Linked DNA regions of Homo sapiens: region 2 is linked to region 1. Evidence: fine-mapped expression QTL. A gene starts in region 1. The other region holds a variant in brackets. All regions are shown on one strand. Distances are between the middles of the regions.

The links.
Region 2: its variant is fine-mapped to the expression of SUCO in esophagus mucosa (GTEx, PIP above 0.99).

What each region holds. Positions count from the first base shown.
Region 1 is chr1:172,526,451-172,542,612 of GRCh38, forward strand. SUCO (SUN domain containing ossification factor) reads left to right here and starts at 6,700. Exons shown (of 24, transcript NM_014283.5): 1 at 6,700-7,047. The coding sequence starts at 6,986. RefSeq lists enhancers at 5,899-6,008, 6,069-6,318, 6,929-7,088 and a silencer at 6,639-6,808.
Region 2 is chr1:172,488,039-172,504,200 of GRCh38, forward strand. No RefSeq gene overlaps it. Among named protein-coding and RNA genes, the nearest start is that of SUCO, 37 kb to the right of the region's middle. RefSeq lists enhancers at 8,928-9,428, 9,429-9,929, 11,591-11,885. The variant G/A (reference allele first, on the strand shown) is at 7,915.

The sequences.
Region 1 (16,162 bases):
GGTACTATTATTAATTATGCCAGGATTATTAAAGGTGGTAAACTAGGCTTGTCAGATCAGCAAATCATCATGTTAGGAAGAATTTCTTACTTATCTGCTTTCCAGCTTCAAGTTTTTTTTCTTATGGCCCTCTCACCTGATCTCCCATCCTTGCAGCCTGGGTATTAACAAACAAACAGACTCTTTTCTGTTGTTTTATGGGGTTTTGTGAGTAAAAGTAATTGCATGTGTGCAATGAATATATTATCTTTACCCCAACTTAATTATCTTGAACTTTGATCACTTTGTATTTGTACCACATTTTGTTATTTTAATGTTCTTGAATACTTTGTTTCATAGAAAATAATATCTCTAATGCTTTTTAAAAAAATCCCCACAGTACCTATAGTGAAGTATTTTATGTGTTTAAAAAATACCTGTTTATTTTATTTGATTAGAGCTCACCTTCACTATTTCAAACACAGAATACCAAATAAGTGTCAAGTTATTGACACTTTTAGACAAAATTAGAAGGCACATAAGGGTTGTAAAATAGTTTTGAATTCGATTCTAGTGCTTACTGTTCCCTATAGCTGAAATACCTTCTCTTCATATCTCTATGAAAATCATACTCATTTTTAAAGAACCACATTATATCTGCCTCTTTTAAGTCTTTGATAATTTCCTCACAAAAAGGTAATTTCCTTTTCCTCTAAAATCTTGTGATACTCACAATTCATATTATTTGAGGCATTTATTCCATATATCTTATGTATTTCATTTCCCCTAGAGCAGTGGCTTTCACATTATTTTGACTGTAACTCACTTTAAGACATATATTTGGCAGGGAGTGGTGGCTCACTCCTGTAATCCCAGCACTTTGGGAGGTAGAGGCAGGCAGATCACTTGAGGTCAGGAGTTCAAGACCAGCCTGGCCAACATGGCAAAACCCTGTCTGTACTAAAAATACAAAAATTTGCCAGGCGTGGTGATGTGTACCTGTAAGCTACTCCTGCCAGCTACTCCGGAGGCTGAGGCAGGAGAATTGCTTGAACCTGGGAGGCAGAGGTTGCAGTGAGCCAAGATCGTGCCACTGCACTGCAGCCTGGGTGACAGAGCAAGAATCTGTCTCAAAACAAACAAACAAACAAACAAACAAAAAACAAACAAAACAAAAAAATCCCAGACATATATTTTACATTGCAACCTAGTATGCATATATGTATATAACAGTACACACACACGTATACACACATCACATATATTACTGAAATAAGATTGCCCCACAAAAATACTTCCTCTTGCTGAGACACACTCTGATATTTTCTAAATTATTGTCTTTTAGTTTTTAAAAAGTGCTGCTGGATTCCCTCAAGATTCATTTCTTGACTCTCTAATGAATTGTGACCCCACAGTTTAAAAAACATTGCTCTTTTGCAGGACTTCTTAGTTGGGATCCATGTATATAATTCACAGGTCCATGGAGGGAATAATAATTATATCTCCATTCTCCTAACCTCTACTGAAATTTAGAATTTGATTTTATTGTGAATGTAGGTAACAAACTGTGGTAGTACTGGCTGTATCTACAACTTTGTCACCAATATTAATCACAGATGTTTTCATATCACATTATGCATATTGTAGGTATCTTGGAATGTCTCTTATACTCATCACCATTTTGGAATTATTGACATTAGGAGACCTGCTGTTAGACCTTGTTATTTATGCATTAATGAAAAAGCACACCTTATTAGATCACAAATTTGCTTTGTAATATTTTAATAACTGTATTTCCCTACAATTAGTTTCCTTGGTAATCTATGTGTTTTATTTTATACCTTTATAAACATTCTGAAAAGGGTTTTACCAGACTACCAAAAGGGTTCAGTTCAGAAGATTAAGACTCCCTGCTAGAACGCTAAACTTTTCCTGGAGCAAATTTCTGTCTCAGCATCTTTAATACAAAAAAGGCTCAATAAATATTTACTGAACACTTTATTTCTCCAGGTTACTTAGGGTAACTAGAACCTAGGAAAATCTATTCAGACATAAGTCAAATAATGTTATGCTAAAAAGCTAATTTGGTAATTTATAGAGAAAGAAATAGTTGGCTAGGTGCTCTAGACTAGTCAACTGCATAAAACGTTCTCATCCTAAGGGCTTGCTACTTCTAGGAATTTAAATTATAAGGCAAATTGTAATTTAAGGTGATTAGACAAAGAAATAAGTAAAAAGTAAAAAATTATTTCTTGGGCCTCTGTAATAAAAAAAGTCACTGTGTGATATATATCAATAAAACACATGACCTCTCTGCAATAAGGAATTTATTCACTGCTTGGGGAGACAAATGACTATTAAATAAAAACAGTGTCATGAGGGCAGGCACAGGTGTTTCAGGTCATAATAAACAGTGTGGTCTGGTGAGAAGGTTGAGTTATGAAAGAAAACAGTGGGAAATAAAGCTTGAACTACATCAACTGGGTTTGATTATGGAAAGCTTTGAATGCCAGGCCAAGGAGGCAGGACTTTATTTCACAAATACGTCAGACCTGTAGGAGATTTTTGCATCAAAGAAAGGACATGATGAAGATAATGTTTTAGGAAGCTTCATCTGAGAGCGTTATACAGGAGGTACTAAAGGACGCATCAGTTACAATCCCCAACATGCTGCTTCAGTTGCTACTTTCTCTCCCTATTTTGAATCTTGTACTTGTAAATTCTTGCTAGATACTTCCACCAGAACCTCAATACTGTGCTTCCAAAACCATACTAGTCTCTTAAATTGTAAATCTGCAACTCCTGACTTTCCTACTCATATAATGGCACATACGTTCTTAGAAATTGGACCATCTTTGATGTCTCCTTCTCTGTCACCCACATGTAATCATTCCCTTCCTCTAGTTGATTCCATTATGAGCCTATTCAATTCATGTATCTTCAAAATAAACATATGTTAACGCAGTGATAGAAGACTGAATTTGGGATCACAAAGTAGAATTTTTAAAAAGGGAAATCTTACCTTTTGTTATTTGCAGTAAAAACAGAACCGTGCATGCCAACATTGCACTCTGTGATCTTCCCGCCCTCAGATCTTCCCGCCCTCAAGAGACTGAGTTCTCAGACTGTACTAATAAAGCAATCTATGTCTTCTTCTGATTTCTACCTTTACCTCCTGAAGTGGCCAAATTACCAGTGCTCTGTTAAGGTAGATTAGGCTAAGTAGTTAAGGCTCTTTTCAGGTAGGTAGTAACTAAATAAAGAAGGTATATGCTATTCTACACACATATTTATATATATAAAGAAGATGATCGGGGGGACAGTTTTAAAAGTTCTGTTTATACTTTTTATGCGGTTAAAATGTTAAGTGCTGATTGCCACATTCACCATTTTTCCATCTTATTTAGTCTCTTTTATTGTCCATTTGTCTGTTTTCCATTCCCCAACCTTTCTTTGACTGATTTCCAGGAAACTTCTGTTTTAACTGACTTTTACTCTGGAAGCATCTAAATGTCATTGGTCTCTAAGATCCTTTGGAGACATATAGGATCTCAGCATTTTGTAATATTGAAAGGAGCAGGTAATTTTTCAACTAAATCAAAATACATAAAAGCTTGCTCATGAAATACCACCATCTTAGACAACACAGTTCTCTTGGGTGTCTTAAATATGATTTGTATATGAGATAAAGAACAAACGAGATAGCCAGAAGGGGTTGGTTCCTTTTCTAAGGTCTGCTTGTTCTCTTTTACCATAAGCAAACAGAGTATCTGATCTTTATCAAGGCAGGGACTTGAGCTGCCCAGAGTTTCTGGTTTAGTCACCCTTTTAGGAATGGGAGAACTCATGTTCATTGTGCAGTTTAGGCCCTAGTGACTTGCTGAATAATCCAAGGATCTGCAGGGCAAACGAGTTATCCTGTGTGTGGTCAGTGCTTTATAGATTTTATTGAATTGGGAGATTCTGTTACAGCAGGGTTTCTCAACCTTGGCACTTTTGACTTTTTGGCCAAATAATTTTTGTTGTGGAGGGCTTTCTTGTGCACCGTAGGATGTGAAACAGCATCCCTGGCCTCTACTCACTAGATGCCAGTAGTACTTCTCCAATGTGACAAGCAAAAAATGTGTTCACACAATGCCAATCTCACCCTGGGGGGAAGTCTGCCCCAGGTTGAGAATTACTGTATTATAGTTAAGGGGTGGTTGATAGTGGTTACTTAGCCTAAGCCTTAAAAGATTATATATATAATTAAATATTATATATGAAAGATTATACATTATACATGCTCTTTTTCTATATTCTTTCTTGCCATTTTTGGCATATGTTATACTTTTAAGTATGGTGACATTCATCTATACTAGTTTTATTTTATATAACTATTACTCACTTTCTTATACTTGTCTATTGAGTTGTAAGAAAATTTTCTCTGTTCTTTTTCTCATTATATTTAACAGATATGTGGAAAAATGTCTACCAGTTCTTTAAAGGTCAGCTCTATGGAACTTCTATTTATTTCATCTGAAGTCTTAGAATAGGAAAGAATCAACACAAATATAGAAAGTCACGTGAAGAAGCTAATTTATGGGGAAAATGAGTTCAATTTTGTGCAGGTAAAATTGGAAGTGATAGAATAATATGTCCAGCAACTACTTGAAAAGAGGATGGGATATAGGTTTAGGAGTCAACAGTATAGTTGAAAATTAAAATTGCTCAAGAGAAAAATGGAAAAAGCTCGGAGTAGTGAAGGATTAAACCTTAACATGAAACCATGGAAATGAAGCTGCAAAAAGAGAAAAGAACATTTATAGATTGAAATAGTAAAAGCTAATAATTGGATGATAATTAGGTGAATGGAAAGCCTACCACGGGGGTATTAATAAAGCTCCAACTGCAGGAGAAGGAAGGAAGGAAGGGAGGAAGGCAGGCAGGCAGTCAAGGAAGGAATGAAAGAGAAAGAAAAAAGTAAAATTATTTGTACTTGCATGTTTCAAAAAATCATTGCAGGGACTTGGTGGAAAATAAGTGGATGGGTTTGTGAGTTTGGGATGAGAGGGTTAGGAGATGTAACTTGATAACTTCCTAGATTTGAGATAAGCACGTATTCTAATATAACTTCTTTGGCTGTGATGCACTGAGGATCAGCTGAGGGATACCTCAGCTGTTTCCTATCCTGAATAAAAGTTCCTGGAGTAAGAGGAAAAGAGTGTCCAACATGGTAAAGAATGTCAATTTATCCCTACCCTTTCATTGCCCCTACTTTCTTTTAAACTTGCATATTAATCATTTGATACTGTTTTTGGGTGAGATAAATACTTGCTTCCCGCAATAGGTGACAGATGAAAGGATTTTATTGTCATATACTAAGAGTGGCATCAGCAGATAAGTGGAACTGTACCTAATTACTGCCAGAAAAGGCAGTTCAGGGTGAACTCCTTTAAAACAAAAATTATCACCCTTTGTATAATTTCTCTAACATCAAATTGACTTATATCCAAGAATCACAGAGCGGATCAAATCATTCAGTTCTTTGGGACTATAATTAACATCCAATTCAACTTAGAAGGTTCATAAGGAAATTCCGCGGCTCAAAATTAGGCGTTAGGTGGGCATTTTACTGAGGGTTTTTTCCCTACGGCCACATGAACAATAAGTAACCCGTCCTTTAAACATTTTTCACACTAAACATTATGCCATGTTCCAAGGCACAGACCATTGCAGCCTCCGTCCCCTCAGCGGCGTAAACACTTGGAATGGGCATGCTGCCCCGTTACTTAGTATTGAGAAGTGGTCACTTTTTGCTCTTCTTAGGTGAGTGTAAGCGACTGCCTTCCCCACTTTAGGTGAACCCCAGGACTTGGAGCGTCTGTGGGTGCTCCTCTAATGGGGACAACTCCTCCCTTCCGACTCCATCGCAGAGAACCCAAAGTTCGAAACCAACAGAACGAAAAGCAACGAAGCACACTTAAAGTGAGGAACCCGGCAAGCGGCGAAATTCTTGCTGAAGAGAAGAAAAAGCGAAAGGTTTTCCGCTGCAACCAATCAGATGAGAGGATTCTTGGCACGCCCCTTTCTATCTACCAATCAACATCTAGCTCAATGGGGCAGTCCATTGCCACAGGGAAAGGGCTTGGTGCAGCTTCCCTCACAACACACACGTCATTCTAGGCCATTCCACGAACTGTGCTCAAAAGAGGAAAACAGTGCAACAGTTCCAAAGCTGATCAGTCTCGTGGTGAGCAGCGAAACTATAGACTTCTCTAACAAAACCATGGATTCTAGGAGGGACTGGGAAAGAGAAAAACGAATTCTGGAAGGCAAACTACAACTCCCAAAGGCCCTTGCGCGGACTCAGCGCGCGAGGGACGAAGGGCGGTCCACTGTAAGGGGAAATGCTGAGGATCACTGGGCTCCTCCCGGCTTTCTGAACGCAAGCCAGCAAGTGGGCGGGACCTGGGGCGGGCGGAGCGGCGAGAGCATCTGCTCCTGCGCTTTGTGGTCTCCTGCCTCCGGCTTCTCCGCCTGCGACGTCGAAGGGGGCGTGGCCTGCGCAGAGGCTGGTGGGGGTGCGGGCGCCGCGGGACTTGGGTGACGCGTCCCTTTCCAGCTCAGCGGTGTGTGAGGTGTCGCGGCCCCGCCGGCGATTGGCTGTTGAGAGGCGAGTACGCGGCGGCCGTTGGTCGCTGGCCTCACGGAGCAAGGCCCCCGGCGGGCGGGGAGGATATGGGGCGGCAGTGGCGGCTGCAGGAGGCGGGCGTGGACGAGCCGGTGGCTGCAGCGGCGGCGGTCCCCGGAGTCCTGTGAAGCGCCCCTGTCCGCGCCTCTGTGGGGCCCTCAGAGAGGGCTGCCAGGACGCGAGCCACTGAGGAGCCGCTCAGCCAGCGCCATAGCCCTTAGGACTATCGGTCACATTCTCGCGCTCCTGCTCCGGCTCCTCCATCTTGGCCTCGGCAGTGGCGGCTGCCGGGAGGATGTGCCGCCTTCTGGCAGGGGGAAGAAGGAGGAGAAGATGAAGAAGCACCGGCGGGCCTTGGCCCTGGTCTCCTGCCTCTTTCTGTGCTCTCTGGTCTGGTGAGTAGCCGCGACGACAAGGGAGTTCCCGTGAGGGGAGTAAATGGGAGGGAGCAGCCCAGGTCACACCCCCTGGTCATTTTGGCTTTTAGGGTCCGGGTTTCCAAGGCCCCCGTGGAAGGGACAAACCGATTACTTCTCGACTCTCCATCTGACTGGTCTGGTAGTGCTCTGTGCGGAGATTTTCATGGTGTATTTTGGAATTTACAGAGACTCAGTGGGAGAGAGAGAGGTGCCAAGGTAGAGGGAACCACCAAGTGCCTTTGTACTCAGTTCCTCTACCCCTTGGAGACGGTGCAGGGTTTGGGGTGGGTGTTCAGATTGATGGTAAGTAAGTTGCTCCGATTTGCCGCCAGTCTTTGCGTTCTTAGTGTGGTAAGGGGATAAAGCACGTCGGATGTGATGCGTTCCGGACGTGCGATTTTAAAACGTGAGTGGTCATGAAGGTAAGAGTAATGTATAAGCAGTAGTTCTCCTGGACATTTCTCGCACAGCGTTTGATCCCAAGTACACTCGGGCCGCTGTTTTTGGAAACTTGGGGGGCGTGTGTGTATGTGTGTTATGAAGCACTTTTTCAATTGGTTTGGTGGAGAGGGTGTCTTAGATGTAGTGTGTGTAGTAGTTTTTGGTAATGCCCCTTAGTGACGGGAAGGTAAATGCTGTATTTTCAAGGCGGGAAGAGTGCTTTGTCCCTAAAGCACTCCTTAAGTTTTACGGAGTTTCTGTTAATCCCAGGCACTTCTGGAGTTTTTTGAGGAGCAGAGAAAGCTTGTAAGTCGAGGGACTGCTGTCACCGTACTTGGAAAAGCCATTCTTTCCTCCCAGGGAATTTCTTCAAAGATGTGTGACAATTGATGACTGAAAAGATGCTTCTTCAGTCTAGGCGATTTGCTGTTTGTTATATTAAAATAGAAATTAAGTTTCCTGTTTTGCTTATTTCTGCAAAGCACCAACACTATTTTCATTTTTATGGATGCCTTATGGATTCCAGAAGCACTGAAATTGTAGAGTTGTTGCTCACATAAAATAATACATAAACAAGGGGAAGAGAAAACACTCGCCTGGCTGAGGGATTTTTATTGGAAGAATGATAGAAGTTTTTGAGAACAAAAACAATTGACTTATTACCTTTCATTCTGAATCCTTTTAATACCCGTCTCCTGTTTTTAATAAAATCCTCCCCTTTCTACTTACTGTGTTGGGTACGGAGAAGTGCCTGTAAGAGATAAATCCACTCACCTCATTTTAAATTTAAATTTGTAGATACTGAAGCTTGTATTCATTTCCATCTCTTTCTGGGGCTGCCTAGTTATATTTGTAGACTGTGTATTTTCTTTCCTCTTTCTTCTTGGTCTTGCCCATCTTTAAACCATGTTATTCATCATCAAAAGTTTCTGAAATGGCTAATAAGGAAAAGGTGAACACTTTCATTCAAGTTTAAAAACACACCAGTATCTCTGGCTTTTTTTAATTTTTTAATTGGATGGTGTAAACGAAATCAAGCAATAGAATGTGATTCTTACAATCATTTGTAAATTTAAGTTAACTCTGCTTCTATTTCTTTTGGGAATTTCTGGCTATCTTTTGATTAAGCTAACCCTCAGTATGTTTTCTCACCTTCAATCATTAGCTCTAGTGAAGAGCTAATGAATTTCCCTGTTAGGGAACAAATCGGTTGGCCTGGTATTGAAAGTAGTAGTAATAAACTTCTGTCAAGTTTTTTAACTCCTAGTGAGGAAAATGGATGTGGAGAGTTTAAGAGTGTGAACATTTTAAGAAACTTTAGCTTAAGAAACTATTGGGTTAGTATATTTTGAGATTTGTTTAGACTGCCAAATTTAGAGACATTTTAATTATTCTTTAGCAAAACGATTAAAAGGCATTAAAATAGGACATTAAGGCTTAAAGGGTTTTTTAAAGGGTGATGATGATGAATGAGATTGGGGAAGAGGAGTGGTACCTGGTGCTGATTGGCAAAGGGTATGTTTTTTCTTTGAAGCCTCTGCTTTTGTGCCAAGTTGGAATTAATGGCACTTAATGGATTTCTAACTTTTGCTGCAATCTGGTGTGGTATTTCTTTTCCCAACAACCTCATTCCCTTTAACAGAAATGGCTACCAACAAGTCCTAGGGTTAGATAAAACGTTTGCAAGAGTTGATGAGTGCCTTTTAGTAGCCACTTTTGTCTCTTTTGTTATTCACAAATTGTCTCAAAATTTTGTGATCCGTTTCTGTTTTGTACATTGAGTGCTGTATGTCTGTTCTACAGTATTCTAGTTTCTGAGGTTTCCCCTCTCATGCTACCAATATTACTGTGTTATGTTTACTATCATAATTTTGTAGATCTTGATTATGTCTCCCCTCTGCTTTTGTCTTGTAGCCTTGAGTACTAACCTTAGATTATGTTTACAGAAAAACCATTTCATCTATGTCATTATTAATTTTTGTTGCTGTTTTTTCCTTTTGCATAGTTTATAATTTTTGATCAAGTAGTATAGAGTATTCTAGGCATAAATGCACTATAGCTGCAGCACAGAGCAATGATAGCTAATATTTGCTGACAGCTGTGTGTCAGACACATGATGTTTACTTGACAATAACACCTTTAATCTTTATAAGAACCCTATAAGATAGGTATTATTATTAACTTCCTTTTGCATTTTACATGTGAGGAAGTAGAGAGGTTAACTTGGCTAAGTTTAAGCAGCTGTTAAGCTTCGGAGCTTAAATTTGAACCTAGGCAGCACAGGCTCCTGAGTACTTTATAGGTCAGAGGCCTGTATTTTATATATGTGGCTCCATCATTTACTAGATATGTGTTCTTTGACTTGTTATGTAACTTCTTTGAACCTTAGTTGTTATATCCTCAGAATGGGGAAATTGATCCATTCATACTTCACAGGGTTGTTAGGAGGATGAAATAATACAAATGACAGATCTTTGTAACACAGTAACAGCGTATTATGTAAATATTTCATCATAACATTATTCAACCACATTTTGTTCTCATACCTACTGTGCCAGATGTTTTTATGAGCACCGAAAATCCAAGATAGAGGGTCACCAGCTTGTCTTGGTTTTAACACTGGAAGTCGCATAACCTAGGAATTCCCTGCATTAGTTTCTTATGCCTGCTGTAGCAAATTGACACAAATTTAGTGGCTTGAACAACACACATTTATTACCTTACAATTCTGTGGATGAGAAGTCCAAGATATGTCTCACAGGGCTAAATAAAGTTAAGATGTCAACTGGGCTCGTTCTTTTTGGAGGCTCTGAGGGGAGAATCTTTTTCTAGAGGCCACCTGTATTCTGTGGCCCCTTCCTCACATCAGCACTCCAACCCTTTTTTCAGTCCTTATGTCTACTAATGACTGGTCCTCCTGCCTCTTCCTCTTATAAGGACTATTGTGATTACATTGGGTCCAGCCAGACATTCCAGGATAATCTCCCTATCTCATAATCCTTAATTTAATCACATCTGCAAAATCTCTTTTACTATGTAAGGTAACATATTTAGGGATTAGGATGCAGACATCTTTGAGGGGGGCGCATTATTCAGCCTATACCCTATACCATACTCCCTCAGTCCTGGGCAAACTGGGAAAGCTGCATCACCCTAAAGAGGAAAAAAACATAATTAGTGGATATTCTGAGTGTGTCCCTTAATTAGTAAAACCTTGTGCATCCACCTTAATTGTCTATAAGTTATGTACATGTGCCAATATAGTAATAGTATATTAGTGTATGTAATTAATGCAAGTTAGATATTTAAGAAAAATGAGAAAAAAATAATAATTTCTGTTAACGGTACCTTTTGTTCTCATTAAAATAATAATTTTTAGTGAGAGCTATGTGATTGACCTACTAGATTATTTTATGTCATAGTATAGAAGAGGAATAGCTTCAACTACTTAGGAGTCAGCCCTGTCATTTTCTTGTTGGCTGTGCTTGCATTATTAAATTCTTTGCAGTAATTTTTTTAAAAGCTGCTTCCCGATGTTGTGAGGGTCAATTCAGTTAAAACTGAATAATTCCTAAGTCTACCTAACTGGGGAAACATAAACCACAGTGAATCATGGTGTGCTGTAAGTAAAACCCATTGTTTGTGGGACTTCCACTCTTTCCCTGGGTTTCTGTATGAATCCTTACATTAATCTTAGTAAAACTTATTTTTTAAAACTAAACAAATCTATTCTTCCTTCACCCCAAAGGATCATCTTGGAGAAGCTTATATTTAGACTTTCGGGAAGAGCTTGACATTTAAACAAGTCTCATACATTTGGCAAATATAACAGGTACTTACAAAGGTTTTTAGGAACAGCAAAGGAAGAATTCATATCCTACTTGTGGTTCTGTCACTAACTGTATGTCTTTGGACAAGTTACTTCTGTGAACCTCAGCTCTCATCCATAAAATGGTCTGCAGGATGGATAGTTCACAATGAGCGAATTTTGTTGTAGGCAGAGAGAACACTTACCCAGTTATCTAGAGCGTGAGTGTATGTGAGGAGAGATGGGAAGGGAGGCTAGAGCTAGGTTTTGAAAGGATTTGATTATCATGCAGATGAATTCTAATTCTAACCACCTGACAGAGGATGAGTAAGTGAAGTGGTTTAAACTGGAGAACAGGAGCATGAGGTCACATGGATCTTTTAATTAGATTGCTGTGGAGGGTAAAGTGGAATGTAGGGGACGTACTTTGGAGGCACGAGGTCCTAAGTCGTGGTCCCACTAGAAGAGAGTTGATATCTAAATCAAGATGTTGGCCTTTTTGTCCTTAGTAGTAATTTTTCTGAGTATGTCAGACCAGTTTTTATCAGTTTAAGAGGTTTATTTCCTGGTTTGTGATTACATTTCTGTACCCTTTTGCTTTTTCTCTCATGATTGCTGGTCTATTAATATACATAAGTGAGCAGAAAAAAATTTAAAAACTAGAACAATATATAAGCTGTTTTTTCTTTTTTGAGGTGATGAATAGAGCATATTGGAAACATATCGATAAAACATTTTGAAAATTCCCCAGGAAATCTGGAGGAATTTTTTTGCTTGTTTCTGCTTCTGTCTCTAAACTTTCAAGGTACGGAATCTATTTCTTTTCTGAATAATATTTGAAATAAATAAAATAATAAAACAATCCCACTTCTCCAAATCATTTGATGCCTTTTTTTTCTTTCCTTGAATAAACCAATGAAAGATGACCTTTACAAAAATGATTTTTTTAGTGGAACTTAATGTGAAAGACTGAGGAAAAAAAGTTTATCTTTGCTCTAGGATATATATTCTGAAGAAAGCACCTGGTATTTTTATTTATAAGAGGTGTCGGGTCATACAGTGTCAGATCCCTTCAGACAAGTTAGATGAAGCCACTTAATAGGAAAAGGTCTGTGAAAGAAGGTGTGTGACATCTTTGCATAACACTTGAACACTGTGTCCAATAAAAGACGGCAAATGACGTGTTTCATGTTGGTCCTTTATGTTATTAAACATTTGAGGATATACTGGAATGGAAGCAGGCAGTAGGGTTGACAGGCAATGGAAAAAATAAAAGGTATCAGCTCTTTTGAGTATTGGTTATTTCATTTTTCGTTTGTTCATGAACTTGTACATCACTCTTTCACTTTTCTCAACAGTCTGAATGGAGAAAAGAATCAATATGTATAATTAATATTCTTATGCTTATAATGAAAGGGAAACTTATAAAAATTTAAGTGCTTTATTATTCTCAAGTCATCTTCAAATAGAAACACCTGTATGTACGTGATGCTTTTGTTTAGTAGTTTATACATAACTGGAAAGAGATGAAATCTCTTGAAACTTATCTACATGTTTTAGATTATACTTTAGTGCCAGTTGTATGTTATGTTTTTCAAGGCCATATTTTAGACTAATTTAAAAGTCAAATTGTACATGTCACAAGGGAATAGGAAATTGCTTTTGAATATTTGCAGTATAAGAGTGTTAATCCTTTGGGATGAATTTGTTTAATAAATGCAAGTTTTTTTGAAAGAAGATTTGGTTTTAGGACTTTATAATTAATTGCTAGTTAAAATTATTTTATATTTTACATGAAAGTGACACCTGGCTGTATCAGAAAGTATTCTGTAACATTAATACGGTTCATAGGTACTAAGCTAATTTTGTATTATTATGTAGCGTTTGTAATCTACTGGAGAAAAAACATGTAAAGGCTAAGAACAGTGCCTCACTCGTAGTAAGCACTACTGTATGAGTTATTCATTGACTCTAGCTACTTTGGTAATTTGTTGAGTAGAAATAAGATGGCCTAGGTTTCAGAGTTAAAAATGGGAATTTATAAATCCACTTAAATATTATTTGATTATTCACAATGTATTTGGTGTGATGAAGGATACAGAAGAATTGTGAGACTTGAGCTCTGTATATAAGCTGCTTGTTACAATACAGATAGTGGTGTAGTGTGAAAGGCATAAAACTATGTCAGAGCTTGGTTGTAGTTCTTTCTTTTCATTGTTAATATGAACATTTATTGAGTGATTATTTCTCTTCTAAGTACTAAATACTATTCAGTGTAATATGCATTAAATTATTTTATTCTCTGTATAGATGTTTTAAGGCAGACACTCCATTTTAAAGATGAAGAAAGGTGGGCACAAAGAAGTTAAGTTCTTAACAGCTTGCCCAAGTTCTTACAGCCAGGAAGCAACAGAGCCAGAACTAAGAAGGCCAGGTTCTAAGCCTGTGTTCTCTTAACCGGTATGCTGTGCTGCCAGTTGGCTGGTAGATGGTCTTGGGCAAGTTTCTTCACTTTTTCTAGTTAATAATTTTATCTGGCAAAGTGTCAGTTTTTTTCATCTGAAAATGTGGGTGCCTGTATTAGCCTAGGAAGGAATGGACATTGGAATTGTTCATGAAACTTTTAAAAGAAATACGCATACCTAGGATTCTTACCTTGTAGATTTTGTCAGTAAGTTTGTGATACTCTTTTATGCATTCAAGTCTGTATTACTGTATTAGGTGAACTCAGTTTATTTTTTATATGTCTAACATTCTAAGATACTTGATTTGAATGTTAATAAACAACACATAAAACTGAACTGCATAGTAAGTGCTTAAGAGGAGAAAATGAGGGCTAGAGTTCTCAAGGAAGGCTTGACTTGGGTTTAAGGGAAATGTGTGGTTTATAAACTCTGCTTCTGTGCAAACAGGAGCTTCATGAGCTGAAATAAGATGTACTGGTGTTGATAACATGAATAATGGCTATTTCTTTGTGTGTGCATGTGTATGTCTGTCTGCCTGCTTGCAGTGGGTAGATGGCACTTAATTGTCAAGGAGAAAGAGAGTTATGAATGGAAGAGATAATCTAGTTGATATGGGTAAGAGTGGTAGTAAACAGAAAAGCCTGAGGAGAAAGAGAGAGATTTCAGAGATTGTGGTAGATTTTGCAAACCAGTCCAAAGAATTAGATAATAAAGATTCAGCAAGAAAAGTGGTGTTGTGAGAACATTATTTTGACATAATTGTGCTAGATTTGTTTTTAGAGGAAGGAGACTTAGAGGGGTGAATACAATTGGCTTTCCACATCCACAGATTCAACCAACCTCAGGTTGAAAATATATTTTAAAAACAATAAAAATAACAATACAACAATAAAAATACAAATAAAAACAATGTTGTATAACAGCTATTTACATAGCATTTACATAGTGTTAGGTTTTAAATCACCTCTAGATATTATATGGGAGGATATGCATAGATGTTTTAAATCACCTCTAGATATTTTAAATCACCTCTAGATACTTATATGGAAGGATATGCATAGATGTTTTAAATCATCTCTAGATATTTTAAATCACCTCTAGATATTTATATGGGAGGATATGCATAGGTGATATGCAAATGCCATTTTATGTAAGAGACTGGAGCATTCTCAGATTTTGGTATCTTCGGATCCTGGATCCAACCCCTTCTGGATCCCAAGGGATGACCGGGCTAAAAAGCCCTTGGAGTAATTGAGGCTTGTCATAAGAAGGACTTCATCTTGGCAGTAGAAATAAAGAACAGGGTACAATAAATAGAGATTTTTGAGGAGGTAAATGATTTAATTTTGTGAAAGGTTGGCAAGCTGGCAGTAGTGCAGTGCAGTGCAGCAGATAACAGCATTAGGCTAGGATTCTAAATAACTGGATTTTAGTTTGCCTCTAACCAAACTCTGTTCAACATCCCCTTTCTGTTGTCCATCTCAATGCAAAGAGATATTTACTTAGGCTTCAGTGTGCTGTATCCTATACAGGATTCTGGTGGACAAAACAAAGTAACTGCTTTCTTGGAGCACACTGTCACTGAGAGTACATTCTAGGGCCTAAAATTATGAATCTGTGAAATAAAGTTCAATGAGAAAAGAAATGTTAAGCATTTTTTGTTTGTTTTCTGTTTGTTTGCTTGTTTGTTTTAACTTGGGCAACTAGAAGAATTGGTGGTGGTCAAAAAGAAGTGGAAGAGTTGGCAAAGGGCTTGGAAGGGGAAGGAGCTGTTAGTTGGAGGTGAATGGAATATCCAAGTGGAGACATTTTATGGGCACTTAAAAATGCAGACTTGAATGCAGATAAAATTTGGCCTGGAGTGCCAGGCACGGTGGCTTATGCCTGTAATCCCAGCACTTTGGGAGGTCGAGGCAGGCGGATCACCTGAGGTCAGGAGTTCGAGACCAGCCTGACCAACATGGAGAAACCCCGTCTCTACTAAAAAAAATAGAAAATTAGCCGGGCATGGTAGCGCATGCCTGTAATCCCACCTACTTGGGAGGCTGAGGCAGGAGAATCACTTGAACCTAGGAGACGGAGGTTGCGGTGAACCAAGATCGTGCCATTGCACTCCAGCCTGGTCAACAAGAGCGAAACTCCGTCTCAAAAAAAAAGAAAAAAAGTTGGCTGGAGTTATCCTCGTAAAGCAGAGGTCCCCAGCCCCTGGGCTGCGGACCAGTACTGCTCCGTGGTCTGTTAGGACCCTGACCTCACAACAGGAGGTGAACAGCAGGTGAGTGAGCATTACTGCCTGAGCTCCACCTCCTGTCAGATTAGCAGCAGAATTAGATTCTCATAGGAGCATGAACCCTACTATGAACCACACACGCGAGGG
Region 2 (16,162 bases), 38 kb before region 1:
AACAGGGTAGTTCTAGGGTCATATAACCCAAGTCAGTCTCTTTTTCCCTTTGGCATTTTTCATTCTGGACACAGAACTATGGAATCAAAAATGGGAGAGGGGGCAAGCTTAAGAGAAAGTCATATATTGAACAATGGTAAGTGGCATGAACATATAATAAATAACATTTACAAATTCCCTGTGTACTGATTCCCAGGAATCTGAAAGGCAGCAGCAAAAGAAAATGCCCTAAATTAGCCAAGGGTATTACCCGATGTTCATTTCTTTGGCATGAAAAAACCCCCAAAAAACTAGAATAAGAATTAGGAGGGAAATAAGATGTCTGAAGAGTTAGGGACTTTTCCATCATTTTCTTCTGCCATTTCTAAAGATTTTGCTTTGAGACTAATTGGATTTAAACTTCTGAAATGCCTTTCTTGGGATATTTGATCATGGCAAGTGGGAGAGACTTCAGAATATTTCAGTCTCAAGTGGGAATAACTTCAAAGCTATTCACCTTTCCCAGCAGTAGGCAAAAGAATGGTCAGGGAACATTTCAAAGTTAATGAAATCTCTTCTAGTCCAAAGTCCAAAGATCATATATCTACCTCTATAGCTCTTATACCTACTATATGGTCTGTCGCTTAGTAGATTCTCAACAAGTTTTTTTTTTGTTTTTTGAGACAGTTTCACTCTTGTCGCCCAGGCTGGAGTGCAATGGCGTGATCTTGGCTCACTACAACATCCACCTCCTGGATTCAAGCAATTCTTCTTCCTCAGCCTCCCAAGTAGCTGGGATTACAGGCACCCACAACCACACCTGGCTAATTTTTGTATTTTTAGTACAGACAGGGTTTCACAATGTTGGCCCGGCTGGTCTCAAACTCCTGACCTCAGGTGATCTGCCCATCTCAGCCTCCCGAAGTGTTGGGATTACAGGTGTGAGCCATTGCGCATAGCTAAATCATGGCCTCTTACCTTTTTTTTTTTAAGTGCCTTCAATTGTACCATTCACCAATTTCTGTGGTATAAATCTTCCAGCATGACCAATTTCAAGCTACCAACAGCTTAACAACCAACTCACAAAATTTTGGAAAAGTTAACAATCACTTTCATCACTTTCATAACCAGTAGGAATCAACTCCAGCACACCAGAGCTTGGCTCTCTGTATTCAAAAGCAAGTCAGTACTGAGTGGTTTCAATGCATTTAGCCCTCAAAGGGAAGTAGGGATACTCAGAGTTGGCTTGGGAACAGAAATTTGACAGTGTAATAAAGCTTCATGCTTAGAAAAGCATATAGGTGATGTCCTGTGGGAACTACCAAGGGCTGAAATAATTTTCTGCCTCTAACCTAGTATGAAAAATTGAAGAAGTACATGTAGACCCTTCCTCTGCATGCTGCACCTCTTCCTCTAAGCAAAGGAGAAAGAAACCTTAGCATGCATAAACCCTCTCCAACAGGGCTGAGGTTCTCCTGAACAAGGGAAAAACTCAAATCCAGGTTTGAATGTGCTCAAGTCACAGTTACCAATTTAAGATCTTTGTAATAGTGGAGATTAGATCAAAGAAGGTTATTTCTAATCATTGTACTGAAATGCTTATTTGTGATACACCAGGAATACTTTTTGTGTGTGTTAATAGAAAAACTAAAGTCTGTAAAATATTTTTAAAATATTAATTCTGAGCCAGTATGAGTGACCACAGCCCAAGGAAAAACACAAACCCAACAAGTTTGGTCCTGAGGTGGTTAAATTACAGATTGGTTTTATACATTTCAAGGAGGTAGTAGGAGTTACAGGCAAAAGCATAAATCGATACCTGGAAAGTATATATTGGTTCAGCCCGAAAAGGTGGGATATCTTGAAGCAAGGGCTTACAAGTCATAGGTGGATTCAGATATTCTATAATCTGCAATTAAAGGAACAAAAATTTGTCTAAAAGCTTGGAGTTAGCAGAAAGGAATTAAGTTATGAATGCTACGTCAGAGTTAGCCACAATATGATATGTTTGGCAACATTTATTGTTTGTAAGCATGACTTAGCCCTTGCCTTCTATGGCCTTAGTCTTGTTTGTAATTTGGTATCTTATTACCAGTTTGTTTTGTCAGTCTGATGATATTTATTTTAACATTAATGCTGGTCAGTTGTTGTACCTAAACTCCAAAAGGGAGAGAGTAGAACCAGGCACGTTGGATTCTCCCTTATACTCTCTCCCTTTTGGAATCTAGGCACAACAGTTTGGAGTTTAGGCACTCCCAGTTTTTAAGGTTTCTCTGGGGTCCCTTTGACCAAGAGGGGAGCTGCTCAGTTGGTGGGGAAGGGGGGTGGTTTAGGATTTTATTTTTAGTTTACATAAGTTTGGCAATAAGCATTGTTCACCAAGACAAGTAGACAGTTATTTCCATTCTCCCACAACTTACATCATTCACATAGTTTTTGATAAAAGTTTCTCCACTTCTCATGCTGCTAAGTTAATAGGGTTTCCTATACATGAATGCTTGAGATGAGTATGCTGTGATACGTTCCTTAGAGATACACATTTTCAGCCCAGTGTGACTCCTTTAAGCCGATACATCCTCTTCACAATACACTCTGGACAGATTCAGAGCCAGACACACGGGGTTCTGGTTATAGGTTGCAGGATTGAACCTGGGGCCCAGGTTACCCGTGAAGCACATATACTTCCTTCTCCAGGTCTGCCCTGTCCTGGAGTGGGGAGCCTTGCTGGGGGTACGAGATGATAGCCATGCCAGCAGGGTTCCTCTAAGGCTCATACTGACTCTACCACACAAACATCAAATAAAAGGCAGGTCTCAGCCTATTTGTCCATTTACACATTTAGTTCCACATCACTCACCACAGTCTACTTTTTGCATGTCACTTGGTCCCACTCTTGTTTTTCCTACTATTCACTTTTCTAATTGTCCCCTTTCTTCTTACCTAAGCTCATTCTGTGAAATCATTCTATTGTGTTTTCTTCTTTTCTCCTAGGTTGGCTCCTCATAGTTTACCATAGGAGTTAGCAGCATCTGAGAAGTCAAGAAGTCTGCATTTGTACCTTGGCTCCTTCACTTGCTGGCTATGTGACCTTGGGAAAGTAGCTTGACCTCTCTGAGCCTCAGTTTCTTAATCTGCAAAACAAGGTTGCAATGATTCCTTATCTTATGAGTGTTGAGGCAAAACTAAGAACATACCATATGTGCTGAGTACCCAGCAAATGTTTCTGTGGTAGGTACTTAAATATGTTAGCTCTTCATAGCATTACTTTTATCCTTGATACCACCATTGTCTTCAGTAGACGTGGTGTTTCTATGGCACAATGTTGTCTCAAGTGACATGGATAATGCTCACAACTCCAGCCCCAGCCCAGCTCTACTTCCAGAAATCTCCTTGGCCAAGGTTCTTGAACAGAGTGTTCATAAGTGCTTTACAGGTGAGGAGATGCTTATAAAACTCACGCCAAACCCACTTCCAAGCATAGAACTCTATAACACTCTGTTCCTTGAGATATCTTGCAAAACTGTCTTGAATAAGAAAATCCTTCATGACTTTTTGATTCTGCTTGTCATGTACTTTGTTATTGCTGACACAAAAATATGTCTAGACATTTTTTTCTTCAATTTACATTTTATAAATACTGACTTCTTGGCCTTTAAAATGAATAATGGCCATTGAAACAATCATGGTAATAAAATGATTTTATTATTTGTTTTCCCTCTAAAAAGCTGAACCAGAGCTATGCAAGATGGCCTCTTGTACCTTCTATTGAAGGTCAGTCTTGAGTCCTACTTGAAAGCCCTTCTCCTTTTCACTTTCCTCCATTTGTGCTGTGGAAGTAGCCAAGCTCCTGAAATAGGACAGATGCCACCTGGATTTGTGAGATCTGAATACCCTTGAAGGCTGCAACCAAACTCATCTGTCAGAAACAGAGGCTTGAGATTACCTCCAGGGTAAAAAATGCCTTTGAATTTTCCAAGATACATAAAAAAGAGACTCCATTTATGAAGTTACATGTGGTTCTGTGTGTCAGGGGAATAAATCATGCTTTATAGGTAATATGACAGAGGGCTTTAGAGGCATTTGAGAAATCTGGAGAAGGCAGGAGATAGCCAGGAATAAGGAACAAGAAGAGCACGTGGGGTTTTCCAAAGGGCAATCTGAAAGGCCATTGTCCAGTCACCGCTGTTAGAACCTTCAGCAGTCTCTGGCAGCACCATCACTGTTCCATTCCACTCCATCCCCATCCTGTCTTCTCCCTTCCTTCCTAAACTCCTTCTCCAACTCTTGTTCCTGCTTCCCAATCACCCTGCAGTTCTATTCCTGTCTTTGACTTCAAATGGGTGGGTGGGAGGACTACATTTGGCAAAAGGATTCCTAAAAGCTTTGCCCAGAGGTCTAAATTCATTTTCTCTCAGATATTTGTCTTGTGTCATGTTGCAAGCTGCCTGTTGCCATAAGGGCTGCCTAGAACTAGCCCAACATTACCACTGTCAAGTTATAAGTCCTCAGCCCAACCCTTGCACAGTGAATTTGTATTTTGTTCTAGAACCTTAAGGATGATAGCCTGCAAATTTAAAGAAGGAGATTCAAGAGTTGGAAGGTTGCCAGAAGTAATTTTGTCCAATGCCAGAAGCCGAGGACCACTTATAATATTCTTCACAGAGAGTTGTCTGGCCTTTGACCAAATGCCAGGTAATAAAGATTGTCTCTTCAGAAGAAAAAGAAATGTTTAGGAAAAAGAGGTGGGAAGGAGGTGAAATTTTCATAATATAACTTTTTGTTCCTTTTGAATATCATTGTGTTGTATATATCACTTATTTAAGAAAGTAAATTAAATATTTTGAAAATGCCTTCAGTGTCAGGAAGCTCATTACCCCCAAAAGCAGACTGTTGCATTTCAGATAGCTGGAATTGACAGAAAGTTGTTTCTTGGCTGGGTGGGGTACAGCTCACGTCTGTAATCCCAGCACTTTGGGAGGTCAAGGTGGGTGAATCACCTGAGGTCAGGAGTTTGAGACCAGCCTGGCCAACATGGCAAAACCCCATCTCTACTAAAAATATAAAAATTAGCCAGGCGTGGTTGTGGGCACCTGTAATCCCACCTACTTGGGAGGCTGAGGCAGGAGAATTGCTTGAACCTGGGAGGTGGAGGTTGCAATGAGCTGAGATTGCACCATTGCACTCTAGCCTGGGTGACAAGAACAAAACTCCATCTCAAATAAATAAATAAATAAATAAAATAAAGAAAGTTGTTTCTCATGCCTAGGTGAAATCAACCTCTTTATGCTTCCACTCTTCTACTTCTCCCCTGTAGTAATAATACAGAGCCAGCCACTCCCCTCCAGTAACAACAAATTTTCAAATATTTGAAGACAACCAATCTATCTTCCTTTAGTTATTTCTTCTTGAATGCTAGAAAGATCACCCACTTTGCTATGCCAGATCTCTCAGCTAGTTTTAATGTTTGTGGGAAAAAAAAGAACTTGTCCCAGGGATGAGATTTCCTTGTACTGTCTTGCTGAATCTGGCCTCCATTGCTCACTGAAGGGTGATGCTTGGGTAGAGCCAAATTTTATTCCAAAATAAGGGTGTAGCTCTGGTCTGGCTTAACTTTGTAGGCTTAGAGTGTTTGGGACATGGGGGTAAGAGGGGATTCTCCCTGATGGTGGACACTTGAGCTTCCTAGCATCCTCAGGAAAAATGTATGAGCTTTCATAATAGATTACAACTCATGTTTTTGTTGTAGCCTGTTTCTGTACCATACAGGTTTTGCACAAACGTTCATTTAGAAGTTTATAAAGTCAGTAAAATCAGAACACTAAATTTAGTCTTAGATTGGAAAGGCAATAGACGGGACTGAAGCTCTGTCCCCAATGCCTTTCTTGATTTTTATATAATTTCAATAAGCATTGTCTCTCCTCCTCCTTTCACCCCAAGTTCCTATAACTGTGCTAAAATACAAAGGAAGCACCAAAAGCCTATATTCATGTTAAGAAGACTACGTGCACACAAAAGCAACAAAGGCAGAATCTGAAACATGTTGAACTATGGACAGACAGCAATCAGTCACCAAGGACAGCACTAAAATCATGGGGTCCTCTGCACCAGGTGTACGCATAGGTACTGTAGGGGCCAGAGATTCACTAAAAAAATCAACTCACAAAAGGCAGATTAATTGGAGAAAAGGCAGGTAAACTTATTTAACATGTATACTCAGGAGCCTTCAGACTGAAGACTGAAAGATAAAGGGGAAATGGTTCATTTTTATGCTTAGTTCAACAAAGTATGGAGAGCTGTGTAGAAATATGATTGGACAAAATAGGTATGATCTAATGCTAGCAGACTGAGTGGGGAAAACCAGCAAGGCCTCTCTGCCTGATTCTTCTTAGCCTCTGAGCATGCACTCCTTCCTTCTGAGTTTGGGGCAGAGCCCTCTCTGCAATCGGGGGTCTTATGACCTACAGTCAAACAAGGTAAGTCAGACAATTTCTTTATGGACAGTTTTTACGCAGAAAGAGGAAAAGTTAGAGTAATATTTTTAGTTTTTATGGCTAGCTTTAGGGAAAAAGCCCTCTGGTGTCCCTGACCCACCTTGGTGAAGAGGGATTCTGGTTTCTATGATTAGTCTCAGGGGAGAAAGCAGGCTGGGAGACAAGAGGGCAGCAGCAGGTCAAAGAAAACCTTTGGCTCCTGAGGCTGTTTCTGAGGCCTTCATTCTGGGGTATTGTTTTCTGAGCCCCAACTGTATCCTACCCAGGGCAAACTAATAGGCCTTCCAGACCCTGAACATTATCTTCATTGCCTGTCTCCTACCAAAAAGGGATCCTACTGATCTATAAATAGATGCCTTTTGAGGTATCCGTCCAGTTTGTAAACTTAAAATCCTAAGTTCTCCACCAACTGAACCCTCTCTTGGCCATGGGGACCCCAGAGAAATCTTAAAAACTTAGTTCCTGTCCATGACAGCAAGAAAGGTTGGACCTACCTTGTTATGCTCCCTCCCTTTTGGAGTTTAGGCACAACTGACCAGCATTACTGTTAAAACAGAGATCATAAGGCTAACAAAACAAGCTGGCAATAAGATACCAAAGTATACACAAGACTAAGGTCATAGAAGACAAGGGTTAAGTCATGCCTACAGACTATCAATCTGGCTACAGAGCTTCCTAATCTTAACTTAACACATTCCTTTTTATTGACTTCAAGTTGTAGATGGAACCTTACTCCTTTGACCAATTATAAATTAAAGCATCTCTAAATTCACCTGTAACCTATAAGCACCCCCCTTCCCACTTCAAGATATCTTGCCTTTTCAGATGGAACTAATGTATCTCTTCCACGTATTGATGTATGTCTTTCCTTTAACTCCTGCCTCCCTGAAATATATAAAACCAAAATGTAATCTGACTGCCTTGGGACCACTTACTCAAGGCTTCTTGGCTTTGTGTTTCTCCCTGGGCAGTCATCACTCATTTTGACTCAGAATAAACCCCTTTAAAATATTTTACATAATTTGGTTCTTCATTAACAAGTTGCACCCATATACTTTTTCCTCCTGGTTCCCTTATGACCAAGGATATAATTTGGGACTAACTGATGAGAGAAGAAAAGTCTGCAATGATGAGGACTGAGCAGTGGGTACAGAGAAGTATGTCTGCCAGCAGAATCCAAGCCACATCTTTAAGGCTCAGATTTAGGCCAGAATATAACTCACCCCTTGGAGGTGGCGAGTCCTATAACACCAGGCTTAGCCAGTCTATGGCATTGCTAATGCCCTCATCAGTATGGTAAAGGCTTGCTGGAAAGCTGGTCTTCCAGAGCATCTGCTCTGTCATCAGAATTGTTACCATGGGAGGAACTAGGTATCTAGAAAGGGATCAAGTGGATTATTGAGGCCTTCTGTGTAAGCCTGTGCTCTTCTGTCTCTGCTTAGAC[G/A]CACCTCTCATCTATCCATCACTCTGGACCAATTCACACTGGGCAGTCACCTCCCATTTGTTCACTCAATCCATTTACCCCTAGTTTAAGCTGGAACATGTCAAACATTTGTCACCCCAGGTTTTACCACTAACTAAGCAGAATGCCTCACAGTTTCTGCTTTTACTGTTCTCTGTGAGTGTGGGAATCAGGTCTTTGAGGAATGGAGGGTCCACAGAACTTAGCAGGATAGCAAAGGCTGGGTGGGAGTAAGGGAGGAGACCACCCCTCATATTGTCTTATGCCCAATTTCTGCCTCCAGAGAAAGAAAAAGTAAAAACTAAAAGACACAAATGAAATCCACAAGCAGACAGCCCGGCGCCACACCCTGGGCCTGGTAGTTAAAGATTGACCCCTGACCTAATCGGTTATGTTATCTATAGATTACAGACATTGTACAGAAAAGCACTGTGAAAATCCCTATCCTGTTTTGTTCTGATCTAATTACTGGTGCATGCAGCCCCCAGTCACATACCCCCTCCTTGCTCAATCGATCACCACCCTCTCACACGCACCCCCTTAGAGTTGTGAGCCCTTAAAAGGGACAGGAATTGCTCACTCAGGGAGCTCAGCTCTTGAGACAGGAGTCTTGTCGATGCCCCCAGCCAAATAAACCCCTTCCTTCTTCAACTTGGTGTCTGAGGAGTTTTGTCTGTGGCTTGTCCTGCTACAGAACAGTATGCACAAAATAGTTATCAGTGGAGATTTAGTGGTTGCCTATTATCTGCCTGGCACTGTGCTTGGCATTGGGAAATCAAATGAATAAGAAGCTTACAACTTCTTGTTGAATAGAAGAAGCAGACAACTAAACAAGCCATCATGAAATAATATGGTAAGAACAGGGGCTATTAGAGCATCTGGGATCAGCACCTAATCCAGCCCCGGTGAGAGATAAGGTTGGGAAAGGGAATCAAAGAACCATCTGGGGGAGGTGACATCCCAAGGGCATGGAAGATATTAGTTAATCCCAGGACATGGCAGGGTGTAGGAACAGACAGGAGGTTCAGCAGCCAGCATAACTGGTTAGAATTGAATGATGACTCTCTGCATATCAGAATGTTTTACTTATAGCTAGAAAGTTCTAAAGATTTAAACAGCAGTTTTTCACTCCTCTGATGGTATTTAATGATGGTGATTAAATACCAGTTAGTATTCACATTCAACCTAGGTTTACTTTAGAAAGCCTTCTGTCCTGATCTGGAAAAGAAAGCTTAAAATGTGTCAAGGTCAGAAAAAGCAATGCCCGGGTATCTATCCCCTACTCGCTAGCTCTGCTAGAAAAACAAAGGCCATCAGCAAGTGTCAACCATGCTGGAATGTGCTGGCGCAGCTCTGGGGCTCCGGGCATTTTCTCTCCTCTCCTTCTTTCCTCTTTTGGTCTAGTGAGCTTGCAAGCTGCCTGCATTCTTGTGAGCTGCCCCTGTCAGGTCTCATACAGGACTCCCTGCTTAACCAGGCAAACACACACGATTGCTTTCAAGCAGACTTCCTCCTGGATGCCTCCCCAATTCCCACTGCTCCACCCACACATGCCCTGGGGCCCTTAGAACTGTGGCAGCTCTCTGGAGACAGAAAGTCTGCAAGGGAGAAACCCTTCTCTTGTGGGAGAACTTAAATGGGGGAGAGGATATGAGATGTGATTGCTAGATCCTGTCCATAGGACTCAGATGGAAGTACAATGGTTCATCCTCTTAGAAAAATCCTTAAAGTTTTCAAAAGAAAGGAGAGGACCTTCCAATCTTTGCTTCCGTAGTAAGTGTAAATAACATTCTTACAAGCTCAAATTAAAATTTAGCATGGATTATATCATTTAATCTACACAATAATAAAGTGTTTACTATTATTATCCCTCGATGTGCCTCAATTCGTTCATCTGTAAATTGGGGATAATAGCACCTACCTCTTAGTCTTATAGGAATCAAAAAATTAATAGTAAATACATTGGAACTATGCCTAGTGCATAGTAAGCAGTCAAAAAATATCAATATGTGTTTTTGTGAGGAATCTGGAGCACAGAGAGGTTAAATAATTTGGCCAGGATCACACAGCTTGTAAAATAAGGCCAAGATTCAAACCCCGGTAGTTTGGCCCCAGAGCCTGCTCTCCTAATGGCAGCGTTATTTGCTGTGCTGCTCTGCTGCACAAAACAATTAAAGAGTAACAAGAAACCAGTGACTTTGGGTGGCTAGAGAGAAGCTGGGGAACCCCTTGAGTTTGTGTAAATGAGTGGTTCTCAAAATGTGCCCCCCTGGCAGCATCCTCCCCATTTCCTTAGGAACTTGTTATAAATGCAACTTCTCAGGCTACATCCCAGATCTACTGAATCTCCAACTCTGGGGTGAGACCCAGGATACTATGTTTTAAAGCGTTCTCCAGGGGATTTAGAGGCACACTGATATCCCAGAAGCACTGGAGTCGACTTTTAACTGTTATATCTACTACGCACCCAGCCTCCATAGCAGAACATGGCTCTCAAGTTGCTTCCACTGCTTTATGATATTCTTCAACCCATCCCTCACCCAAGCTGGTGATAGAGGTTTTGAAAGGGCTTGGTACAGGGCAATCTTGCAGCAGAGGGCTGCAAATGTGAATTATTAGAAATGTGGGCAGTCTGGAAATGTGAATTAACTTTTGGCCTCATGGCCACATCATATGGAGGCCTCCGTTTTCTGAGATGCTAAGTCACAGATGGAGAAAACAGATTTGGTACCTGGGTTTTTGGGGTGGTTATTGATTTTTTTCACCAAATTCCCTGGAAATATAATTTAAGGGCCAGAGAAGCTAAAAGGAAAGCGACCAAATGAATCCTGCCTCCTGGGGAGTGTTGTCTGTGTGTTGTGGGGGTGGGCAGCAGTATGGCCAAGGCAACTGTAGCTTTATAAACTGGGTGAGGTGAGGTGAGATAGCTACAATGTCAGAGAACAATTCTGAGTTTTATAAAGACACAAAAGTACTAAAATTTTCTCAAGATCAAGGAAGGGGAAGGGTTGGCCCATGAAAGTTGCTAAACAACTTTCTTTAGCAACTTGATATTCCACGCTGCTTCCGCCAGGCTCAGCCTGCAGCTGCAACCTTCAGAGAGCTGCAAGGAGTATCATTGTTATTACCTAATACTGCCATTTATTGAGTACAGCCCCTGTGCCAGGCACTATTCATTGTGCATGTGCTCATTGTTTTAATTCTCTTAGAACTTGGAGTAGGTATCATTATTTTCATCCTTCTATTACAGATGGATTTAAGGAAATTAAAGCACATAAAACTTAAGTAGGCCAGGCACGGTGGCTCATGCCTGTAATCCCAGCACATTGGGAGGCCGAGGCGGGCAGATCACCTGAGGTCAGGAGTTCGAGACCAGCCTAGCCAACATGGTGAAACCCCATCTCTACTAAAAATAAAAAAATTAGCCGGGCTTGGTGGCAGGTGCCTGTAATCCCAGCTACTCCGGAGGCTGAGACAGGAGAATCACTTGAACCCAGGAGGCAGATGTTACAGTGAGCCGAGATCGCGCCATTGCACTCCAGCCTGGGTGACAGAGTGAGACTCTGTCTCAAAAAAAAAAAAAAAGTTAAGTAATTTGCCAAAAAACAAACAGCTACCAAGTGGTGGAGCTGGTTGGAACCCAGGTATTGTTTGTATAGATCAGTCCTCACCATGTAATTCTGCCTCTTCAGCAGAGTTTGTGTCTACTGCAGGAGGTGAGGAAGTGAGGGAGAGTGGGAGGAGAATGGGGTGAGAAACCTAAGTCCCTCTGTTGATCCTGGGGCTAGACTGACTCTCCAGCGCTGCCTCAGCCAAACACTGCCACATCAGTCTTCTGGACTGGAGTTTGACACTTTCGCCTTACTCATCAGTCAGGTGACAATGACACATGCAAGCCTTTGCCAGGGAGCATCCTGAGACAGGTATCAAAGTCTAGCCCTCCAGCACTGTGTTATATCAACCCTGACTGAGACTAGAGCTCAAGCAGGCACCCAGTTCTTGCAGAGCTGCCCTGGCTTCAGGGAGTTTGGCTGAAGCCCCAGCTGCCTCTCTTCTCAATGGGAAATTGCCACCAAGCGTATTCTGGCTGGAGGGAGGGGCATTTCTCTTCATGACTGCCACTTCAGCTGAGGAGGCTGGGTTGACAGGTATAACCAGGTTTTCCCCATCTGCCTACCCTTTTCCTAGCAGGCAGTCAGAGGCTTCTTACTGAGTCTTTCCTTCTGGGTATTTTACAAAGTTGGGGGGTGGGGACCTTTCTGGTTTTCTCTGGGGGAAGAAAATTAAAAGCCAACAGGCCTCTCCCTAGGAAATTGCAGGCATATGCCAAGGTTCTCAGAAAATTGCCACCTCACCTCTCCTGACAAATGACCTCTCCTGACAAGTAGCCAATAGGCTTTCAAAACAGCAGTACCACTGACTAACAGCAAATGTTCTCTTTTTATGGAACACAAGGTGTTCACAGGTGAGAGCAGATCTCCTTCCTTCTGCAGACGTGGGGCTATGGAGAGGAAGTGAGGACTCTCATACTCATTTTACCAAACAGGAAAATGGAATTACCCCTTCACAGAGGGGCTGATTCATTTATATGACTCTGCTAATGCCTGAAGGAACTGGCAGCTCGAGATGGGCACAGGACCCAGACCCATGATCACTGTGAATGCTTTCTGAACAATGGCAATACCAACCATGGATCAACTCCATCACTGGGCACTGCTCAGACGTGTAACTCTTGGCCTCTGAGCAATATGTGCTTTGTTTCCTACTTTGAGGCCAATTTTAAACTTGAATGTGTGAAGCAAAAATTATTTTTTCCCTATTGGACAGTCTTTAAGAACTGGTAAAAATACAAGGGGCCCTTGTTACCTGAACCAAGATCTGAGGAAATGCTCCTTCCCCGAGAGGACTCTGGAACGAACTGTCCCTTTTAGCGGGGCTGATGCAGCCCCTGTAAAGCCCTTAGTAAGGACTTAAATCATTCTGATCAATTAGCTTAAAATCTACCAGTTCTTAAACACTTTCTCCCCCACTTCCTCAGGGAAGCCTTCCTCAGTCCCCAGTTCTAGGGGAATCCTTGCTTGCCTTTAATTTTTGAGAGCTTTATTGTCACCTGGGTATTAAAGAGCTTCTGTTTGAGAAGCAGGCTGTCACTTCTGTCTAGGTCAGGCTTTTCTTCACAGCACGTTGTGAGCCAAAAATCCCTGAGCCTATGCTGGAGGGACCCCAGGTAACCCCTGACACTGCTGCTGTATTTGTTCAAGCAAATCTTTACTGAGAGCCTTTTATAAGTCAAACTTGATGTAGAGCTAGGAGATACACTAGTGATTCAAACAATTATTCCTGCCCTCACAGTGCCTACATTCTAGGAAATATAAATAACATAATTTTAATATGGTGTATTAGGAAGTGATTATTGCTATGGAGAAAAGCAAGGCAGGGATGAAGTAGCTAAGAAGACTGATGGTGGGGTCTGAGGGGATCCAAATCAGGTGTGGGTCACGGGGTAGGATTATCTTTTGGCCTGAATTATTACTGCTCTCCTGGCCCCTAGTCCCTGTGCTTTTACCAAGAGTGCCTCCTTTTGTTTATTAAATAAGAGATGGGGGTCTCACTATGTTGCCCAGGCTGGTCTCAAACTCCTGGCCTCCAGCCATGCTCCTGCCTTGGCCTCCCAAAATGCTGCCTCACAGCCTGGGCCACTGTGCCTGGCCCCAATAGTACCTCTTAATGCCTGCCTCTCTTCCTTCGATTCTTCTATTCCTCTCACTTTCTCCACCACCAAAAATTGTGCCTTCAATGCCATCCCCCAAATTCTCCTGATCTTTAAGGACCAGCTCAAGCTACAGCCTTTCCCCAACTCCTCTGACCGCTCCCTTCTCTGAGCTCCATGAAAAGCATTAAGCCACACAAGTGATATTTGATCTTGTCTTCCATTGTTTCTTCTATATGCTTCTTCTATATCTTTCTCAACTGATTAAAAGCTGTGACAAATGGAGGCTAAGATCCCAGCATATTGCTTTGAATACAGGAGGTGTTTAGTAATCATACCAGGTGGCCTCAGTCAGCTCTCAGTGCAATTTGGTAAAAGCTGACTCCTCATTCCATTTTAGTAAGCTACAGCTTTTTCTACTCAAGCCCTGAACCACTCCTCCAATATCTCTCAGCAGAAACTTTACTAGCATCCATCTTGGATGAATTTGCTCAACTTTCCTTCTCAAAACCTCAGAATTAAATCTCTATTTTCACCATCTTTCTCCTGTTTAAGAGAGAATTATTACTAATTCTTGCCCAAGACTAACTGCTTTATTTACACTTTCCCACCATAGCCACTCATATGCTCTGGGATCTTATTGTCTTTATTACCCAGAAATTCTTATTCATCTCTTAGGGTGCTGGCTTCTTCTTAGTATCCAAGTGAGTTGAAATCTTTCTCATTAAAAATAAGAAAAAGTCTTGATACGTCTTCCTCAATGGTTTGGCTACTACAAAATTATTATAAAAGGAAAGGTAAATGAATTAAAACCTGGACTCTTGAACTAGATTGCCTGTAGTTTAATTACCAGTTCTGTTGTTGCTATGTGGCTTTGGGAAATTTACTTAACCACTCTATGCCTCAGTTTCCTCATCTGTAAAATGGCGATAATAATAATAACTGTTTCATAGGGTAGTGATGAGGATGGAATTAATTTTCATAAACTACTTAGAACAGTGCCTGGCATACTATAAGTGATATGTGTTTGATATTTGACATAAATAATTATTAAGCCTTATATATTATTCTTTCTTTCATTTCCTTGGTCCTATTTCTTTCTTCCCAAAGCTACTATCCAATCTTCTGTTTCCTTTCGTCACCAATTTTTTCAAAAGGACAGCCTGCAGTGCAAACTTTCCACTAACTGTTTCCATTTTCTCATGTCCCTTTCACTCCTCAACCCACTAGAATATTGAAAGTTCCCAATGGCCTCTTAAGCTTCTAATCCAAAATTTCATTTCCTTTCATTTGACATCTAGTATCCAACTTGGAATTTCTTCCTTTGCTTTTCTTGCCATTTCAGCTTCTCCTCAGCCAGCTCCTTTCCTTTCCCAAGAGACTCCATCCCAAGGGGTCTCTTGGGCTTCTTCTCATACTGCATTCTCTTCCATTGGTGTTATTCACACTCCTGCCTTCACTTACTGCCTACCTTCCATTGACTTTCACACCTACTAGGACTGACATTTTTCCCTGAGCACCAGCCCCTAAGCTTGACCAGTTATACAGATAAATGCCATATCGATACTCTTCTGATAGATTAGGGTTCAGCTATCTTCTAGATTCTAAATCTAGAAGATTTCGAACAGGTAAATCTTCTCCCTGTCATGTATTGCTTCAAATCTCTGTTTTGGCACCCAGTCGCAAACACCAGAAACCTTAGGGCCTTTGTGGTTCTGCATCTGGATGTGCCTTTGCATTTCACAAATCAGTTTTCACATCCCTTAGCTCATTTACTCCTCACAATGACCCTAAGAGCACTATTTGATTACGTGATTTTGCAAGGCTTAATTTGAATAAGTATTTTTTTTCCCAGAATGACAAAATAAACACATTTTCTAATTCTTTTAAGAAAGAGTGAAATAACTCCTTTCTACAGAGGAAGAAAATAAGTTTTAGAGGTAACAAATTTTTCTAAGAAGTTGTAAGGGTCAAATGAAATAGTACGTGTTGTGAAACTTCATCTACCTTAAAACATCAGGTAAATGCAAAGTTTTCTTGATTATTAACATAATGCTAAATTATTGGTGACACAGCTAATTTGGTAAATGTCACAAGAAGAGTATTAAGTGTACAGAAATACAGAGGTGAGGGAAATCGGTTTAGTTAGGGATGATAAGGATCTTGGGAGAAGAGTAGGATTTTAACAGATGGACAGCATGATAGAGGACCAGCTTCTCCATGTCTCATTCTGGTCTACCACTTTTATATCTGTCCTTAATACAAAGCTGACTTGAGTGATCCTTTCTCAGCACTTCTAGGTAATGGCTGGAGGTTTCCTCTAAATGCAATAGACAAATTTAAGGCACCTTTTATAAGAACATTAGGACACTAACTCAAAGGTCACTTCTTCTGAGGGAATAAAAAAACCATCCAACCTGCCTGCAGCAGCTCATACTATTCCACCCTCCATGTGGACAAGGAACACATGGGAACAAGGAACATAGGGAGCAAGAGTGTGTGCAGGACAATGAACTGCAG